Homo sapiens: one gene and its partner. The protein of the gene in region 2 interacts with the protein of the main gene of each other region in a pairwise test. Each region holds a gene or a part of one and is shown on either strand. Other genes may lie near its edges.

Region 1 (2,578 bases), about 36 Mb from region 2:
ATGTTGAAGGTATGGCCCAAAGTACAGCCCAGTGAAAGTGATTTGGGAAAGGACCAAGCTACTGAACTTTTTACTGAATGATTAGCATTATTGGATTTGAGGATAGAACAATAAATTCCTAGATCAATGCTCCTAAAATGCAGTATTGCGATATACTACTGGGTCATGATCTATTAATACCTTCCCCAGAGGTAATTATTATTCTGATTATCACCATGGTTAGGCTTACCTCGGAAGAAATGGAATAATACAATATGAACTTGCTTGTCTGGCTTCTTTCCCTTAATGTGTCTGTGAGATTCAACCCATTTGTCAGTGTACCAATTACTTATTGTATTGCTGTGTAATTTTCTGTATAGTATTATATGAATATAACACTATTCATTTTTCCATTCTCTTGGACATTTGGGTTCTTTCTGGTTATTGGCTATTATAAGCAAATCTTTTATGAACATTTCTGTGTATGTCTTTTGGTGGCTATACAAACTAATTTCTCTTGGGAATATACCTAGGATTGGAATTACTAGAGTATAGGTAGATGTATTTATCTGTAAGTAGATGCTGCCAAACAGTTTTCCAAAGTGGTCTGTTTTAAGATGTCCTTCAATTTGGGGATGATCAGAAGCTTTCCACACAGCACCCTTTACAAACAAAGATGCCTTTATGTCTTGTAATGGTTACTGGGGAAGAATGTTAAATAGTCATGTGTCTTTTGCTATTTTTCTCCTTTCTAGCATCAATTCCTGAAGATTGCCAAGCCCCTCTCCAGCCTCACTCCACTGATTGCTGCAGCTAAGGAGGCAACAAAGAACAATCACTAAAACCACACTCACCCCAGCCTCATTGTGCCAAGCCTTCTGTGAGATAAATGCACATTTCAGAAATTCCAACTCCTGATGCCCTCTTCTCCTTGCCTTGCTTCTCCCATTTCCTGATCTAGCACTCCTCAAGACTTTGATCCTTGGAAACCGTGTGTCCAGCATTGAAGAGAACTGCAACTGAATGACTAATCAGATGATGGCCATTTCTAAATAAGGAATTTCCTCCCAATTCATGGATATGAGGGTGGTTTATGATTAAGGGTTTATATAAATAAATGTTTCTAGTCTTCCGTGTGTCAAAATCCTCACCTCCTTCATAACCATCTCCCACAATTAATTCTTGACTATATAAATTTATGGTTTGATAATATTATCAATTTGTAATCAATTGAGATTTCTTTAGTGCTTGCTTTTCTGTGACTCAACTGCCCAGACACCTCATTGTACTTGAAAACTGGAACAGCTTGGGAATGCCATGGGGTTTGATAATCTGCCAGGGACATGAAGAGGCTCAGCTTCCTGGACCATGACTTTGGCTCAGCTGATCCTGACATGGGAGAACAACCACATTTTTCTTTGTGTGTGCTTCTAGCAGCTGTTCGGGAGGACCTTGACCCAATAGTGTTCCCATGCTGTTTCTTGTGAAATGCTCTCGGCTATGTAGCAGCTTTTGATTCCCTGCATACCCTAGGCTGCTGCCCCTATCCTGTCCCTTGTTTATAACATTGAGAGGTTTTCTAGGGCACATACTGAGTGAGAGCAGTGTTGAGAAGTCGGGGAAAATGGTGACTACTTTTAGAGCAAGGCTGGGCATCAGCACCTGTCCAGCTCTACTTGTGTGATGTTTCAGGAACTCAGCCCCTTTTTCTGCCTAGGATAAGGAGCTGAAAGATTAACTTGGATCTTCTAATGGTCCAAATCTTTTGGTCACAATAAAGAGTCTCCAAATTAGAGACTGCATGTTAGTTCTGGATGGATTTGGTGGCCTGACATGATACCCTGCCAGCTGTGAGGGGACCCCGTTTTTAAGATGCATGGCCAAGCTCTCTGCAAATGGAAATGCTTACACTGGGTGTTGGGGATGTTTGCTACCTCCTGCTATTTTTGTGGTTTTGGTTCTCCCACTATGGTAGGACCCCTGGCCAGCATTGTGGCTTGTCATGTCAGCCCCATTGACTACCTTCTCATGCTCTGAGGTACTACTGCCTCTGCAGCACAAATTTCTATTTCTGTCAATAAAAGGAGATGAAAATATTCTATTGGAGTATGCCTTTCTTTTTTCTCTTCGTTTTTTCTTTCCTTTTCTAATTTTTTATATGAAATAATGAGTAGTTTCTTCCTGAACCATTTGAGAGTGGTAAGTTGCAGATAGAATGCCCCTTTACCACTATATACCTGAATGTGTATTCTTTCTTTTTAACACTTTTATTTTAAATATAAATTAAGAGAAATGGGCCAAAACCATTTGTATTGTTTAAAGAATAATTATAAACACACTTGTATCCACCAAATCAAGAAATGGAACACTGACAGTAAGAACCTTCTCTATCTTGTCCTTCCTTTCTCATTATAGCCCCCACCTAAGAGGTAACCACCATCTTGACTTTTATTTAAATAACTTTCTTGCTTTTCTGTATACTTTCATCACATTCAGGTGTGTTCCAATACAAGTAGATTTTAGTTCGGCCAGTTTTTGAACTTTAAATAAACATATCATAATAGATATATTCTTTTGTGCCTGTTATTGTTTCCACTCA
Region 2 (3,500 bases):
ATGGGAAAAGGCTGGAGGGATGCGCTCTCCCTTTGCTCTGCTGAGGGATGGATGGATCACCACTCAGTCATGTATTCACTCAGAAAACAGACTGGGTATCCAAGGTGTGCTGAGCAGAGTATGAGGTGCTGCATTTACAAAGTCAAATAAAAGGCGGTTCCTGCTATCAGGGTAATGCCCTGGAGTTAGGGGAGACAGACATGGGGAGGAATAAAAGCAGTAAAAGATGGTGTTGTGAGGGAACCTGGGCATAGTGTGGTGGTGCTAAAAAGGAGACGGTGCTCAGAAGAAGCTCCGCTGAGAATTCAGATTGTCAGAAAATTAAAATCTCCTGCTGGCCTCTCCCCATTGTTGTAGGTTTGGGCTGTGGAGGTGAGCAGAAGGTGCCTGTCTTTACTAAACAGCCAGGATGGAGGAATCCTGACAGTAAGTTTCTCCCAGGGAAATCCAGAAGCAGCTTCCATTGTTCTTGTTTTGTTTTGTTTTGTTTTGTTTTATTATCAGTGTAATCTTTTTGAAGTTGCCACCTTTGAGAATCTGCTGACTCTGAGATATGGTGTGGATATACTATTCAGAATAATGTACACAAGCACATAAATACCAGGTTTTGTCTACAGTTTCAGAGATTTGGTGACCTCCTTGCTGTGTCCGTCATCTGTGGATCCCCTAGAGTCCAGGAACCCAACTTAAGAATCCCCCTTCCGTATGGTCTGAAATTTAACCAGCTTAGATGATATAATCGATCCGATCTGTCCTATTTCAAAATATCCTGTGCAAATTGGACAGATCAAGTGTCCAACTTATTTAGAATCCCTTTTTTCCATAAGAAAAAAAAAAAGCCAAGCCCATATTTTAAGCCAGTGATCCTAGAGGTTGTTTGTGCATAATAGTTTTACCCTCTTTTTAAAATATATGCTGAAATGGCTTTCTCAATTCTGTGTCTGACATTTGAATAAGAAAACTGAGAAAGGCCTATATGTTAGCACAGTGCATCAGGAGAAGAATATTAGTATGATTCAAGAGGCTATTTGCCATCACCCTAGAACGTATTCTTCACTCACATTAAGTGATCACCCGTTTTTCTCCCTGTCAGGGCAGGACCCTAATGGCTAGGGAAGCAATTAGGGCCACATCTAGGGTGGGTCTGGGAAACCAGCCTTTCAAGGGTTGCAGACTGAGGACTGCCTCCACAGTTTAAAAAATGTTCTGAGTAGATCCAACATACCCTGTTTGGGGGTAGCACTCTTTAAACGTCCCCAAAGTCAATTCAGACAGGATAGGGCAAAGGTTTTGTGCGTGTGCATTTTCACAGACGGGGCATCGTAGCTTTCATCAGATCCTCAAAAGAGGTCTATGACCCCCAAAGTGGTAAGCACCACCGTTTCCGGATGGTCCAGACCTAAAGGTGAGCCTACACTAGTGCCTGAGTAAACCTTTAGGAGAGCTCTTGGGCCAGATTTCCCCAGCATTCCTTGTGTGCCACGTTGGGTGCTTCCCAGCTTGCTGAGCAGAGCAGCAGCTTCACCATGGGCATCTGGTCCTTGTCTAGCACAGTCTCCACTGTCTTGGGCCTGAAAGGGGATCCGTGGTGTCAACTATAGCAAAATTCTAGGATCTTTAGGAAGCAGATTAGGGAAACAAGATTGATAATACACAAGTTTATCTTTTCTCCCTCTGGAGACCTCATTAAAATGAGATTAAAGCCATTGGGGGGGAACAAAAAAAGTAGAGACCTACGTTGACAGTGAACAGGCAATGGTTACCAATAGGTAAGTAATTTTAACAAGTTTCCTGAAGATGGAGAACAGCTGCAAGGGTGGTAATTAATGAGGCAGGGCTGAGGAAACCTTTGTATGGAGTACAAATGGAGGAACACGTAGCTGGGCAGTAGCAGGTTTGCCTTATAATACCCTGGAGAGGATGAAGATTTCAAAACTCCCGATACAACAGAGAGCAGAAGTACAAGGCAGTGGAGCTGCGTTTGCTGGCAGGCATCTATCCTCCAGGCATAAAATCAGAACACTTTTATCTCTAAAGAACTGAAAAACTGGAGAAAACATTTTTCTTTCTAGTATACGGGGGTGCCACCTCTATATCTTTCCATACTTCTGATAAACTTCCCATAAACATAGCATGCCCAAACATATTTTCTTGCTTTTTTCATACATGTGATTGGGCAGGTAAAGGGTCAACCAGACATTGCAGGAAAGCTACACACATAAATAGGAAAACCAAGATAAACATAAAAATTGATCCAAAAGAAATAGAGATGATATAGGAAACAGAAGAAAAAAATAGTAACTATCATTTGTATCCTGAGAAAGATTTAAGATAGTTATATCCATAAAAGAGTAACAGCTTGGCATTTATTTAAAAAAAAAAAAAAAGAAAGAAGAGCCGGGAAATAAAGTAAATGAACTATCCCAGAAACTAGAACAAAAGACAAAGATTCGAAAAGATAAAGATAAATGACACAGAAGACCAATCCAGGAAATCAAACATCTCCTTATAAAGGGCCTGCTGATATCAGAGCTCTGGGAGGAATCACAAGGGAGAACTTCCTTTCTCAGAGTGGAACTGGTTGATCCTGTGTGAAGCTGAAATAATATGGGCCTCTGGGTGGCAAGGGGCTATGATTACAGCTCCTTGACAGCTTTATTAAAAAGAACAGTGCTTTCTATTATTTGGCCATCATATTTTTTATATTTTGCTTCCAATATAATGATTGCTTTTGCCTCACCAAACTCCCCGTTAGCTTTTAAAGGTTGTCAGCATTTCTGAAAAGGACATTTAATTATCCTCTTTCTGCTGTACTCAGAGAGCTGCTGGTGTTCTGAGCCGGACCCTTTCTTCCTCTCTGAAAATTGTTGAGGAGGCCTTGCGAGCAGGAGTGGTAAAGAAAATGATGAAATTCCTGAAGGTAAGATCACTTTATTGGTTACAACCCCTGAAATGTACAGAAGTCTCCTATTTTATTCGGGGAACAGAATTAAGGTGGGCTTTGTTTGGTTAATGTGCTGCCATTTCTTCCTTGCTAGATTTTAAACTTCTTGGATAGGGATTTGCTTCTGCCTGTCTACCCAGACCATACTCTGAACATCAACAACAGATTGTTGAATAAATAAGAAAATTGTTCATTAGATACATCTATAAAACCTGCTTACCCCTCAAGCCTGACTTAAAAATATATGGCCACTGTTCTTGATAAAAATGATCTGAGTGGCTTTCTGTAACGTTTCTCAGGCACATTGTTCTGCTCAGGTTTTGCTACTCATGATGCTTTATACAGTTATCTGGAGAGTGTTGGATGGAACTCCATCTATGAGACATGTAGCCTGCAGAATTACCATGTGACCAAAGGATGTTGGGATTTCCCTGTGAGATGAGTGTGGTGAATCTAAGCAAGCCAGTAGAGCAGTTATCTGGATTCACCTGCAAGGGCGAAGGGGATTAATACACTAGGCTGCCATCTCAGAATCCCACCTATGATGTGTGTGCCC

What was found. Proteins that work in one complex are often made in the same cells at the same time.
Region 1: the proteins of TTC12 (region 2) and PAK1 interact in binary tests that used the Homo sapiens proteins (3 or more experiments, as listed by UniProt).

Annotation. Positions count from the first base shown.
Region 1 is NC_000011.10:77,321,517-77,324,094, reverse strand, and holds the end of PAK1 (serine/threonine-protein kinase PAK 1), read left to right. Parts: intron 1-734; coding exon 735-821; 3' UTR 822-940; coding exon of another isoform or gene 941-958; 3' UTR 959-2,078; downstream 2,079-2,578. UniProt on the Homo sapiens protein: Protein kinase involved in intracellular signaling pathways downstream of integrins and receptor-type kinases that plays an important role in cytoskeleton dynamics, in cell adhesion, migration, proliferation, apoptosis, mitosis, and in vesicle-mediated transport processes.
Region 2 is NC_000011.10:113,359,583-113,363,082, forward strand, and holds part of TTC12 (tetratricopeptide repeat protein 12), read left to right. Parts: intron 1-357; coding exon 358-426; intron 427-2,818; coding exon 2,819-2,920; intron 2,921-3,500. UniProt on the Homo sapiens protein: Cytoplasmic protein that plays a role in the proper assembly of dynein arm complexes in motile cilia in both respiratory cells and sperm flagella.